Linked DNA regions of Homo sapiens. The protein of the gene in region 2 interacts with the protein of the main gene of each other region in a pairwise test. Each region holds a gene or a part of one and is shown on either strand. Other genes may lie near its edges.

Region 1 (3,060 bases), on a different chromosome or scaffold from region 2:
ATGAAGACAAATATATGGTAGGGTCCAGGAGTGTCCCAGGCACAGATGTGTGCCCTCTGCTCATAGAAACAGGATACCAATGCACATCCCTCAGCACATCCATGTGTTCACCAGCCAGGAAGCTGACCAAAACCTGTGTCAGAAGTTTTTATATCTAGAGTTTTACCATAGATATAATTGGTTAAAATCATCGGCATGTGGCTGAACTCAATCTCTAGCCCCTCTCCCCTCCCTGGGGATCAAGCTGGTATCATCCAGCTCAAAGTCCCAGCCCTGTAACTATATGGTTGGTCATTCTGGCATGGTCAGCCTCCATCCTCAGTCAAATCTTACAGCAAACTCAGGTGTGGTCTGAGATCAAATTCAATATAAAATTAGGTGCAGCCTAAGGTCAAATCTCAACATAAATTCAGGTGTAGTTTCAGGGACCTGCCACGAAAAACAAAGATACTCCTATTACTTGGGAAATTCCAAGGATTTAGAGTCTCCTTCTCAGGAACTGAAGACAAAGGCCAAATTCTTTATTATACAATGAAGTAGGGGAGGATTTATATGAAAAATCTTACTAATTCTGGAAGCTGGAAATGACCTGTGTCCCAGGAGATAGGAAGTAGACCATGTGTTCCTCATTAAGGTGGTCTCAAGACCTGCTCTGCTCCCAACTTGGTTCACTTTCCCAGCCCTTACCAAAGGGGCACCCAGTCAACCATTCAGCAGACATAAAAAATGAGTTGGATACCAGGTTCCCATCTGCCCCATCACCTGTTTCTCACGGTGTCCAGAGTATCATATAAGACCCCTAACAGACACTTAACAGAGACCCTGCAGGTTTGGTAAGGCAATTGGAGATCTGCTACATCCAGCCAGGCAGCAGCACTTTGGGAGGCCAAGACAGGTGGATTACTTGAAGTCAGGAGTTTGAGACCAGCCTGGCCAACATGGTGAAACACTGTCTTTAATAAAAATACAAAAATTAGCCAGGCGTGGTGGCACATGCCTGTAATTCCAGCTATACAGGAGGCTGAGGCAGGAGAATCACTTGAACCGGGAAAGCAGATGTTGCAGTGAACTGAGACCATGCCACTGCACTCCAGCCTGGGCAACAGCATGAGACTCCATCTCAAAAAAAAAAAAAAAAGAGAGATCTACTACATCCTTCCCCCAGCTGCCCAAGAGAACCCCTGGCCAACAATGAAGAGGGAAGAGGGGGGAAATCTAAATGACTACCTTCCACCTCTAGCATGCAAGAGGGGGAAAAAAGTAACAAGACAAAAGGCTTTAGGAGCTCTTAATGCTTAGAGTGAAAAAAAATCACAGGCTAGTTTTTTCATAGTCATTGATCCATCTCTGACATGGCAAGAATTTTCCCTTCACCCTGGCCGCAGGTGGAAGCCCAGACTCTCTCCTAGCAAGGTATCCAGAATGGAGAGGGGCTACCCTTGTAGTGCAGTGCTGTGAATCCTCAACCCAGAGGCAAGAAAACAAGAAGACTATGTAATGAGCACCCACATGCCAAGCCCATGCAAGGCACTTTCAAGTGTGATCTCAGTTAATCCTCACACCAACCCCATAAGGTAGGCATCCCTGTTTTACAGATGAGGAGCCTGAGGCATAGAGAGGTTTATTAATTTGTCAATCAAAAAGTTCCAAGTTTCAAAGCTGGGATGAAAAGCCAGGTCTTCTGACTTGCACTCTGTCACACTGGATTTTTCCTCTGATCCAGCTGCAGCCTCCCATAAGAAGTTCACTCTTAATTTCATGTCCCATGCTTTGTCTTGGTCCCTGTGAGGAAAGGGGTCAGCTAAAGGTAACTGTTCTATAAGGATGGGTAGGTATCCTGGCAAGATATTTCCTCTGAAATAGTAAACGTGACCTTAGAAGTTACTGTCTAGGGCACTCTCAGCTGAATAAAGTCTCCCAAGGAAACACTGAGGTAGAGCAGTCTGCAAGTGCAAAAGCACACCTTCTGCAGATTCCCTACAAAGTGGGGTCCCCTGAAAGGGGCAATGTTAAAAGGTAAAGAAAGCAGGAATCAGGAGGGCAAACAGGAGTAGTGTCAAAACTGCCATGGCAGGTTGGAAGACAGTTCAACAGATCAAAGAATACGTTTCCCAGCGACCAGGGTGCACAGAAGGACCTTTTGCTCCAGTCCAGGAGATGTGTTGTCATCTGCTTGGCCAAGAATGACTTCGAGGTCTTGAATGTGTCCCATGCAAGGCCCCAAGGGCACTCATTTCAACAGCAGTGGCAGCAGCCCCAGCTCATTCAATCTTTCCTTGGCCACTGCCTCCCAGCCCTTGTTGGCCTGTGGGTTACGGGGAGAGGGATGCAGGAGCCCTTCCACCTGGACCTCTGGCATCAGGCCTGCCAGAGCCCGTCGTGCCCGCTGCTCTGCCAGTCGCCCAACTCCCACCACCAGCCGCACCCCCAGCAGCTGCACCTGCCGGCAGAGGGCTGCATCACAGATCCCAAGAAGCTGTTCTCGCTGCTTGGCAGGCAGCTCAGCAGGAGTAAGGTTGCGCCCGCTGGGAGCCAGGAAAAGCAGAGGGCATAGATTGTGGACAAAACAGTGATGGAAGAAGACCTCAGGCTGTCCACAGAGGTTCCGGAAAAAGCCCCAGAATCGGGCACCACTCACTTCTGACTGTGGGCACTCCAGTCCCAGCACTGGTCGTTTAGGATGCTCTTGGGGAGGGGTCAGCACAGGCCCCACAATGCCCAACCAGTCCCGGACCATGCTTACTTCCCCAAAGGGCACCTGTGAGGAAGGAGAGAGACATGAAAGGCTTCAAACTGGAGACCTGAGGCCCGGGCTCTGGACCAACTGACTTCTTTATACCTTACATGAGGATCCAGCCTGCACCCCCTACCCCTACCTTCACCCAAAGGCCTGAGACAAGGATTCTTGGCCCTATGGTTTGAGCCTGTCTGTCTTTTTCCAGTTCTTCATTGTGAACCGTGGTCCAGAAGAATTTGTTTCCCTCTAGCCCAACTAGCCTTTGGGACTAAGTACAGGGACTACATTGAGATATCTAGCCCTACACAGGGTTTGATGGTTAG
Region 2 (3,500 bases):
TTTCTCCGTCTTTAACTCATCTTTTCAGTGAGTTCAGTGGCTACAGAGTAACGAAGTGAGGGCGGCTCTGGGAGGGGTGGAGCCACCCTGGGCTCCCTGGGGCTCTGTATAGAATCACAGAGCCCCACGCCTGCCCTGCCTGCCCACAGTGGGCCCCAAGAGGCAGTCCCACCTGTCCCCTCACCATGCCACCTGGCATGGACTGTGTCTGTCCCCTCGAAAGCTGCATAATCGCATATCCCCAGCACACAGCCCAGGGCCAGGCAGTTTGCTCAAGGAAGAAGAAGGAAGGGGTTTGCGCCTCAGCGCCAGGCTAAGCCCTGGGAGACCCAGCAGGGCCGTGACCTCGAGTACCTGATGGGGTCACCCCCAACTAGACTTGCTCTCCCAGCCCCCAAGAGGCAGCACGGGCCCTGCATGGGCCTGGGTGTGACCAGCCGCCCTTCCTGCCCTGTCACCCGTGGCTGCCTGTCACCGAGACTGTCCTGTCACTACAGCCGAGGAGCCAGGCCTGCCCGCCCGCTCTCCCAGCCCCGTGATTTGTCTTGCAGCTGCTGCCGTTGCTCGGAGCGAGACACTTGCTTGTAGCTTGTGAGCTGTGTATAGGCAAATCTTTCATTTTTCCTGCATTACGCCGGCGTGTACTGTCACTTAATTTTTATGTATGCAATCCTTCCTGACAAATATGATCTGCTGCCTGGTAATTCGTCTGACGCTCATTCTGTTCCGCGCTCTAATTACGGCTCCTATTTCTGACACCGAGGCAGCCACTCTGCCACCGCTGGGTACCGCACCTGTCAGCCCGACCATGGCACTGACTAATGCCCTTTCATGCCAGCCTCGTGTTAGCAAATACAGAGGCGGGGAGGGGGCCCAGGGAGGGGGGAAGTGGGAGGAGACCAGATTTGCATAAGCCCAGCTCTTGGGTCAGCAGCCTTAGGAGATGAGGTGGTTGCTGGGGCAACGTGGCTGCCACCACAGCATCCCCACATAGTAGGTGCACATGAGATGCGGCAGATGCATAATTCATCCCCACGCACAGGGCGTGAAGTGTCCCTGGCCCCTGTGCCCCTCCTGAGTCACGATGCAATGGTAATTAGTTCAATCTCTTGCCCAACCAAACGTGTGTGCAAGACTTAGCTGTTTGCAGAACCTCTTGGTGGAAGGGGTCTTTCCCCTGGGTCTTGGAGATACAGGTCCTGGGCTTTAGCTTGGCACTGTCACCATTCTAGAACCTGGTGGGTGCAGGCCCTTGGTTCTGGGAGCTTGTCCTGCTGGCAGGGACTTGCTCAGCTCCGTGCAGGCCTCAGCTCATTGGGCATCTCTCCTGGATGCCGGGCACAGAGCCCGGAGTGGGGACAGGCCCCAGGAGGGCTCCTTCCACCCATCATGTGGCCTGGTCGGCGCTCGGAGGGCTTGGGAAGAGCCCGGCTTATGAGGGCGGCCTTCTCCCAAGTTCCAATTCCTTCTCATTAATATAATAAGTGCACCAGTCCAAGTCAATAAAATCATACTGTCGGATGAGACGCATCTCTGCCCATTCCTAATGATGCGATCCTAACCCTCTCTGACGGAGCGCCACAGTCTTTTTTCTGCAGTGGGACAGAGAAAGGCTCGGTGCTGACTGACGGGGGACAGGACGCAGCGGTTCTAACTCTTCTCTTTGACAGCTTCCCTTGAATTTCCTGGTCTTTTCGAAGCCCTTCAACCACACAGGTAAACAGTCCCAAACTGACCGAAACACTTGGTTTTTCACAAGGGAAGTAAATGTTTGAGGGGACAAGGAAAGACGAGGCTTCCTTCCAGCAACGGAGAGTCAGTGGCCCGGGTCCCCAAAGGGGGACTCCAACGGTATCTGCCGAGGCCCCCGGCCCTCGTTTCCTGGAAGCAGCGTGGGTTCTGAAGGAGAGGCCTGCTGCCATGTGACCTCGGAAAAATCTCTCGAGCGCCTGGATTTCTGATTCTTCCTCTGCTAAAGGGAAGGATGGCTGGATGCTTGGGGCTGTCAAGGGCATGAGTGGAACGTCCCATACTCCCTGGGGGGTGGGTCCCTACACATCTTCCCTTTGGAGCTAAAGGAAGAGCTCCTGAGGCCTGGCCAGGTGGGGACAAGAGTTTCAAAACAACCCCCTCCCCGCCAGCCCCGCTGGCTCCATCAGCTGCTGGGAGTCGCTGGTCTCTAGGCTCGTACATTTCTCCTAAGTGTGTGTGACGCGCTGAGAGTCTCTCTGGAACCTGTATGAACAGTGACACTTTCCACAAGACACTGTGACTTCCAGAAAGTGCCTCCGCCCAGACAATGCTGCTGTCTCTCACACCCCGCTTGCCGCAGGCACTCGGGGGTCTGGGGATAGGAGACGTCCTGGCTTGAGCCATGGAGTGGGGTGGAAATGAGCTGGAATGGGGCGGTGTTCAAGGAGGCGGCGGGCAGCTCCTGGGGCCCAGCCCCCTCCTGGGGAAGCGGATGCTGGTGGGCACAGCACACAGGGGGTGGGCCTGGGGGCACCTTCCACTGCAAACACACCTCAAAGAGCCAGGAAATAGCCCTGAGAAAGCAGGGGCCCTCGCCCACTCCATGGGCCTCTGGGAAATGTTCCCACAGATGGGCGTGGTGAAACCCAGACAGCCTTGTAGTAACGCACAGGAGACCCTGCTCCTGTGTTCCACTGGTGGGGAAGCGGGGGCTTTCTTGGTTCCTTTGTTCTCACTAAATGAAAAATCCCCCATCGTACAGCATTCCAAGTTTCACATTTGGTTACATACCCAGTGTGTGGATACTGAAGCTTGCCATTGCTTCACCTGTCCCCAAAACACATCTGACCAAGTCTCTTCCGGAGTCCAGCCCTTCAGCACCCCCCGACCCATAGGGTGGTGTCCAGCCCACTGAGCTCAGAGTTCAAGGCCCTGCCCGCTTTTCATGCCACTCCTGCAAGGACCCTGGTCTGTGGCAAAGCCAAGCTCAGCCGCACACCGAGGCTCACCCACTGTTTCCTGGAACGCTGCTCCCTCCCCTTCCCTGTCCCAACAGCATCTGGTCTCCCTTTATGGTCCAGCTACAATGTCACCTCCTCCCTGGCAGGCACCTGGTCCCCACAGCCTCAAAACCGCCAGTTTAAAAGCCAGAAACTAGGAACAGTGCAAATGTCCACCCCCTAGGAGGGATGGACCAAGGGTGCTGCCCGTGAACGGGACACTCACAGCAGTGGGAAGATGACCGCCCTGTGCCACAGACACGCCCCCTGCTCCAAGCAACCGGCTCAGTCAGCTTCTCCCGCAAGGGCTGGGAGGTGATCAGGGGGTGTGGGAAGCCCCAGCTGGGCTCCTCTGGCCACAGCTGATTCCCTTCTGGGTCACTATTCTGAACAGATGAGAAAACCCTGGGGCTTAAAAAAGGCATCTTCCTGCACTAACTGACCAAACACACGTGGGGAGAATGTTTGCGTCTCCCTGCATGGTCACCAGGACCGCTGGGGGCTGCTGGGGCACAGACAGGTCCCCCT
Region 3 (2,694 bases), on a different chromosome or scaffold from region 2:
CAATTTTGAAAGACATCTCTTTGAAAACTCCATCTTAGGAGATGTGATTAATAGAGGTGCCAGGTGACATAGAGCGCTGCTACATTTCTGGCCATAGAAAAGAGCCCACAGGGTGAGGCTGCTCAGGTCTGTGTGTGCTCATTCACGTCTTGAGTCCACAGGCCTGAGAATGAAACAAAGAGCCAGAGAACCATGGAGTTGGGATGGAGGTCATTGGAAGGGCTCCAAGGGTTGTATACAGGGAATGCTTGAGGGGAATCCCCCAAGAACAATGGTAGGAGATGGGTACAGCTCTCAGCAGTGTAACCCTTAAAGTCCCAGGTTAATGAGTCTAGAGGAAGAATAAGAAGAGAACTGCCAAAGAGGCAATTGTGTAAAAAGCTGTTCATCCACATTCCCAACATCAATGTTGTTACTATTGGAATGTAAAGTGTATGTGTGTGGGGTGTGTGTTATAGGGAGAATGGAGTAACAAATGGCAAAAGTTGACACAGGCCAAATCATGGAAGGCCATGCTAATTTTATTAACTTATATAGTGCATAAAGTCTAGAATTTAAAATTACAAAGGTTTTCTACAAATCAATAAGAAAATACAAATAACCTATATTAATCAGAACAGAAACTCAATTCAATTATCTTAAACAAGAAAGGGACTTTATTGGCTCACAAAACTTTAAAGTCCGGAGGTAGGGCAGGCTTTAGGCACAGCTGGATCTAGGGCCTCCAGAAAAATGACATCAGAACTTAGTTCTCTTTCCATTTCTGCTAGCATCCGAGTTTCTCCTCAGACAGACTCTCTCCACATGGCACAAATTCAGGCTTACATGGTCCTTGGTTCCTGGGATCTCCATAAAGCCTTCTTTCCAGTAGTTCCAGCAGAAGTTCTGTTAAGGGCTTTCCTTAGCCTGGCTTAAGTTATATACCCATTCTTTTATCACTGTGGCTAGGAAGCTGTGGGACTCAGGAGGCCAGGCCTGGTCACATGCTCACCTAAGCCACAGGGAATAGGTTCCCCACAAATAAATAAAGGTTGTGTTACCAGAAGATGGGGAAGGAGATGCTGAACAAATAAAAACAATATATCCACACATAACCCAATAGAAAGCAGGTAAGGGATACAAACAATCCACAGTAAACTATAAATGGCCAATAAACATGAAAATAACCCCAATCTCACCATTTTTTTTTATAATCAGGGAAATGCAAAATAAGAAAAGGTTCTTTTTCGCCCAACAGATAAAAACTATCAAGTGTAGGTATGGTTATATGGGGAAATGAACATTCTCCATACACTTGGTGAAAATACAGTTATGAAGGCCTTTGGGAAGACTGAAGGTGGACAGAGAACAAACCCTTTGATCCAAAAATCCACCTTACTGGACTCCAGACTAAAGAAATATTCACACACATGCACAAAGACATCTGAATAGGATGTTTACTTTGGCAATGTAATAGCGAGAGGAAAAAAATTAAGGGAATAAATAATGGCATTTTCATAGTATTTAATCATATTCAACCATTAAAGAAATTTAAAGACCTGTTATCTTTTTTTGAGACCAAAATTTTAAAAAGCTACAGAATATGAGATCCTATTTATGTAAAAAGTGTTTTTATGTGTATGTATATTCGTACGGAAAGGTGACTAGAGGATGTATGTTAAACTGTGGTAAGTGGAATGTGATTGGTAGCATTGGAGAAAAGGGTCTCTCTATTCAAAGAACTGTGTTTTTTATACAATGAGAAGGTAGTCATTAGACTTTCATAATTAAAAAAAGGAAAATGGGCAAAAGCAATTCATAATAGGAAATGCAAATGGCCAAGAAACATGAAAAGATGTTCCTCCTCATTAATATTCAAAGAAAAGAAAGAAATTTTGCCTACCAGATTGGCAAAAATTTTTAAGGATTCAGGGTTGGCAGACTATAGGCAAACAGGCATTCTTACTAATGATGGAGTTGTAAATTGGTGAAATCTTTTTGGTAGTAGTTTTCAAAACTGCAAATGTGAAACCTGATCCAATAAATTTCTAGTTATTCATCCTACAGAAATACCCACACAAGTAGCAAAATACATGTACAGGAATGTTAATTACACTTCTATCTATAATGAACCTAATTATCAATCCATAGGGGATTAAATAAATTACAGAATATTCATGCAATGGAATAGTATATAGTTATGAAAAAAGAACATCTTCAATGTGGGGGGAGAGGAGGCAAGTCTCAGTGTAGTGCATGTGAAATGGGGTTATGTCCTACTTTATACGGTAGCTGAGGATTAAGAGTTAATCCATGATAAAGCACTTCAAATAGTGCCTGTCACAGCAACCACAGGTGTCAGCTGTTAACACATTATTGATTAAATAAGTATATGCCTAAATCTGGAAGAACAAACGAAATTATCATGACTTCTCGGTAACACTGTGAAAGGAAATATCCTTTTTCATTTTACATTTCTGCACTGTAAAAAATTCAAACCAGCAATGTTTAATAGCTTTCACATTTGTTAACCATAAACACAAATTTATCAAGGTTTAATAGCCACCACCCATGGCATGGTGAATATGTCCCTGGAGTCTACAGAACCAGATTTGAATTTTATCTCTAGGCCACATGCAAGTCACATGATCTCTGAATCTTGCTTTCCTAGTCCACAAATCTAAGTGAGATAGGTACGGTGTCTAAGCCAATGCC
Region 4 (3,500 bases), on a different chromosome or scaffold from region 2:
GTGGTCAAGTGCAGTGTTTCCTCATGGCTTAATTTCTTAGAACATTTAAAAATTTTTCAGTAGTCATATACTTATTTTAATGAGTAATGGGAAAACATACCTATATTAAATATACAGGCATTTTTAGACATGACAAGGATCATGATTGAACTTCAGGAAAACATTGATCCAGAACAAACTTGTTTTTTCCTGTAGCATTTCTCTGATTCTGATCAGAGCTAGCTGGATTTAATCCTTAAAGGAAAGCTCTTGGCCTTGTGAAAATTCTTCACCCTAGTCATGTACCCACTCAGGATGTTATTGCACCAATTTTTCCCCTACATTAGTGTCAGTGAATCAACTAACATTAATTTGGCACGTACTGTGTTCCAAGCTCACAGACCCTGCCCTCAGGGAATTTCCAGTTGATTTGAAGAATCAGTGAATAGCACCAATTACTTCTTGATGCAAATGAGAGAAGTCAAAATGCAGGAAGCATTAACGCAGGCAGCAAGGTGTGGGGAATAGGGGACTAGAAATGATAACATCTCCAGAGAATTCTGGCTCTGCACTATATGAGTGCATGACCTTTACAAAGTCACTTCATTTCTGTGCCTTAGTTCCTAGAAAATGTGGATGTTGACATGAATGAATCAGGGCCAACCCATATATTTTTGAAATGCCCAACTCTAAAAGGCGCTATTCACTGTTACTGCAGGGCACAACCTGTACAACCCTCTATAACGACCTCACCAACATCTGCCCTACTTCTCTCAGAGGGTTTGTTGTTCAGAAATAAAAGGAGACTCGGAACATTTTCTTTGTTTATAAAGAGCTGCAGACATACAAGAAGGGCTTTTAGAAGAGACATTGCTTAGCATTTCTTTAGAGAAAGATTATATAGAACAAGAAAAAAAATAACACTGAGTGACTATAATGTGTCAGGTTATATGCTAATTGATTTCTGTATTCATATGTAATATCTTACCCAAAGAACTGGCATGATTCTGCATAAGATTACATAGCTGATAAAGGAGTGGAACCAGGGTTTAAAATGAGGATATTTGACTCCAAACTCCATGTTTATTCTAGCACTTCACAATGCTCAGACATTTTATTTTGCATGTGCTAATATCATTACTTTGCAATGGTTCTCTTACAACCAGGCCTGTCCTCTCCCCATATGAGTAAGTTGCAATTATCTAAGCACAGTGACCTATCCCTTGTTTTTGTGACATCCCAAGTCTTGGGAATTAGAAAGCAAATTTCACATGTGGTGGAGGCTTAATGAGTCCTTGGCAATAACTGAATCAACCAAAATACACTGAAAGATTGGGAGGAAATACTAGGTTGAACCATAAGAAACTGTTAACATTTTACCATTTTTGGCCTACAAAAATGGCCATTTCTTTTGCCTTAATATAGTTAGTGTATTTGATAAGCTATATCCTCATTTCCATTCATATTTTAAGACTTTAAAATAGTCCCAGGGCAAAGCTGTTATGGTATGATGTAAAATCTATAAGCATGGAGTTTTCCTCACGTGAATTCCACAAACCCCTAGGTTCATCCATGTACTCCCTTAGAGGAAGCTCCCACCACCCCCTGCACACAAGCACGCTAGTGGTCCCTTTCATCATCTTGAATATATAATCCAACGAGGGTAAACGCCCTAAATTTCCAGTAACTTTGGGCTCAAAAGTCCTTCCTTTGACTGCTCTTGAGAAAGTCATTTTGCCTCTCAGAATGTCACCTCTAAAATAAGCCTAAACATGGCTGCTCTGCCTACTTCCTGGGGTTGCCAGAGGACAAGAAAGTGGTAGCCAAGCTGTCATAAAGACTAAACAGATGGTCAGTTCTACTGGTAAGGTTTAAACATACCCAGCCTAAAGCGCTATGCAACGTGGAGTATATTTCTTTACAAAAGGGCTACCCAAAAACTAAGCATCTGAGCTCAGCGAACATATGCAGTTCCAGGATTCCAGACCTCCTTGGCCTATGTTAGAAGCCAGTTCCTTCTCAGTAGGACTCCTCGACCAGTGGTATCACTGGATTGGTTTCATGGGCCAAGCTAACCTGCCCTGATATCCTTTAGCCCTTGACAAGAGGTCTATGCCAATACAAAGCCCCAAGAACACCCCAGTAATGTTCTCCTAAGCCTGGGAGGTACAGCCTGTGTAGCATGGTGCAACTGACCATGAAAATAAAAGATTGTCTCTTTTCTGGTCTCTAGGAAATGCCCTCACATAGAGATCCAGTAGGTAGGAAAGAAAAAGGTTGGCTTCTTCATGGAGGAATGAGATATGAAGCTGATGCAGAAGGGGAATAAGTTGGTCATGGGCTCATCATGCCTTCCTGTCGGGTGCTAGAAAGGTGCCAAGAGACTCTGTCCTCAGGGGAAATGTGCTCATAGCTGTAACCCAATGATGCATTAGTGACAGGGATCCAGGAAGGGCCATGGGCACGAACATCGCCCTCACAGAAGCCTGAAGTCCCATCTGTGGATTGGAATTCTTCCTTAGCATTAGGTCTGGTGCCCTCCTTGGTAAATATAAGTGGTCCTGGAAGGAAAATGCCTGAAATCTGCCAACAACTGTGTCTTTGTCAGATCACCAACCTGGTGGCAAGTGAAGAACATGGGGGAAGGGGACAATTGAAAGAAGGGAGGCAAAATGCAAAGGCCAAAGGGCAAAAGGAAAAGGGGAAGTGAAAGGACCAAAATCTCTTACTAGTGCTACAGGACTTGTAGCAACAGGTCTCTCTGGGTGGGACCTTCTGGGATAGAATTACTGGGGGTGTGGTTTCCCATCCAAAGAGTTTGGGGATGGGATTGAACAGCAACTAGCCAGGCTTAGCTGACACACACTGATGTCTCTCCACCCCTGGAAAAATGTGGCTACCACAGCCCAGAAGAGATGTCCAAACACTGCTGATAGAGTCCAAGCCTGCTGACCAAGTTTCTTAAACACCAACTTTGCCAACATTACTGAGGGTTACTATCAGAGAACATTCAGCCATCTGAGGTACTATTAAAGCATGTGAAGTTGAGAGGACCCAGGATTCTGGAAGGAAAAGCCAAATATGATACTGATTTTCATATGAGATGACAAGGCTGAGTCTCATTATCATTATTTTAAATTAATTCAGCTCCCTGGTACCATGGCAAAGTCAATGGTGGTTTTAATAAATACTAACAGGTAAAAGGATAATTCACAAGGTAAATGTGATTGATGTTGACAGAATTACAACGTTAACAGCAAAGAGGATAAAGAAGATGTCATATGTAGTATGTTTGCATACTGTTTAACAGAGACTCTCCTGAAATCTTCCTGGGAATTCAAATTGGCGGGTGCTGTCAGCAGGAATTCACTGCTTCTGAGTAACAAGCACAAACAAAGGGGAAGGAGAAAAGGCAACTGGGAAGGATGAAGGAGGCACCGGAGGGTGCTATTGGAGCTCAGTCTGACCTGGTGTAGCTCTTTCATTAATGATCTAGGAGTAAACAATGCCTTAATGAAATT

Evidence for each region. The genes of interacting proteins can lie anywhere in the genome.
Region 1: the proteins of NEK6 (region 2) and SMUG1 interact in binary tests that used the Homo sapiens proteins (3 or more experiments, as listed by UniProt).
Region 3: the proteins of NEK6 (region 2) and ZNF24 interact in binary tests that used the Homo sapiens proteins (3 or more experiments, as listed by UniProt).
Region 4: the proteins of NEK6 (region 2) and CBY2 interact in binary tests that used the Homo sapiens proteins (3 or more experiments, as listed by UniProt).

What each region holds. Positions count from the first base shown.
Region 1 is NC_000012.12:54,179,866-54,182,925, forward strand, and holds the end of SMUG1 (single-strand selective monofunctional uracil DNA glycosylase), read right to left. Parts: intron 2,759-3,060; coding exon 2,231-2,758; 3' UTR 1,783-2,230; coding exon of another isoform or gene 1,654-1,782; 3' UTR 501-1,653; downstream 1-500.
Region 2 is NC_000009.12:124,327,449-124,330,948, reverse strand, and holds part of NEK6 (serine/threonine-protein kinase Nek6), read right to left. Parts: intron 1-3,500. UniProt on the Homo sapiens protein: Protein kinase which plays an important role in mitotic cell cycle progression. Required for chromosome segregation at metaphase-anaphase transition, robust mitotic spindle formation and cytokinesis.
Region 3 is NC_000018.10:35,331,727-35,334,420, forward strand, and holds the end of ZNF24 (zinc finger protein 24), read right to left. Parts: 3' UTR 501-2,694; downstream 1-500. UniProt on the Homo sapiens protein: Transcription factor required for myelination of differentiated oligodendrocytes. Required for the conversion of oligodendrocytes from the premyelinating to the myelinating state.
Region 4 is NC_000013.11:45,705,320-45,708,819, reverse strand, and holds part of CBY2 (protein chibby homolog 2), read right to left. Parts: intron 1-3,500.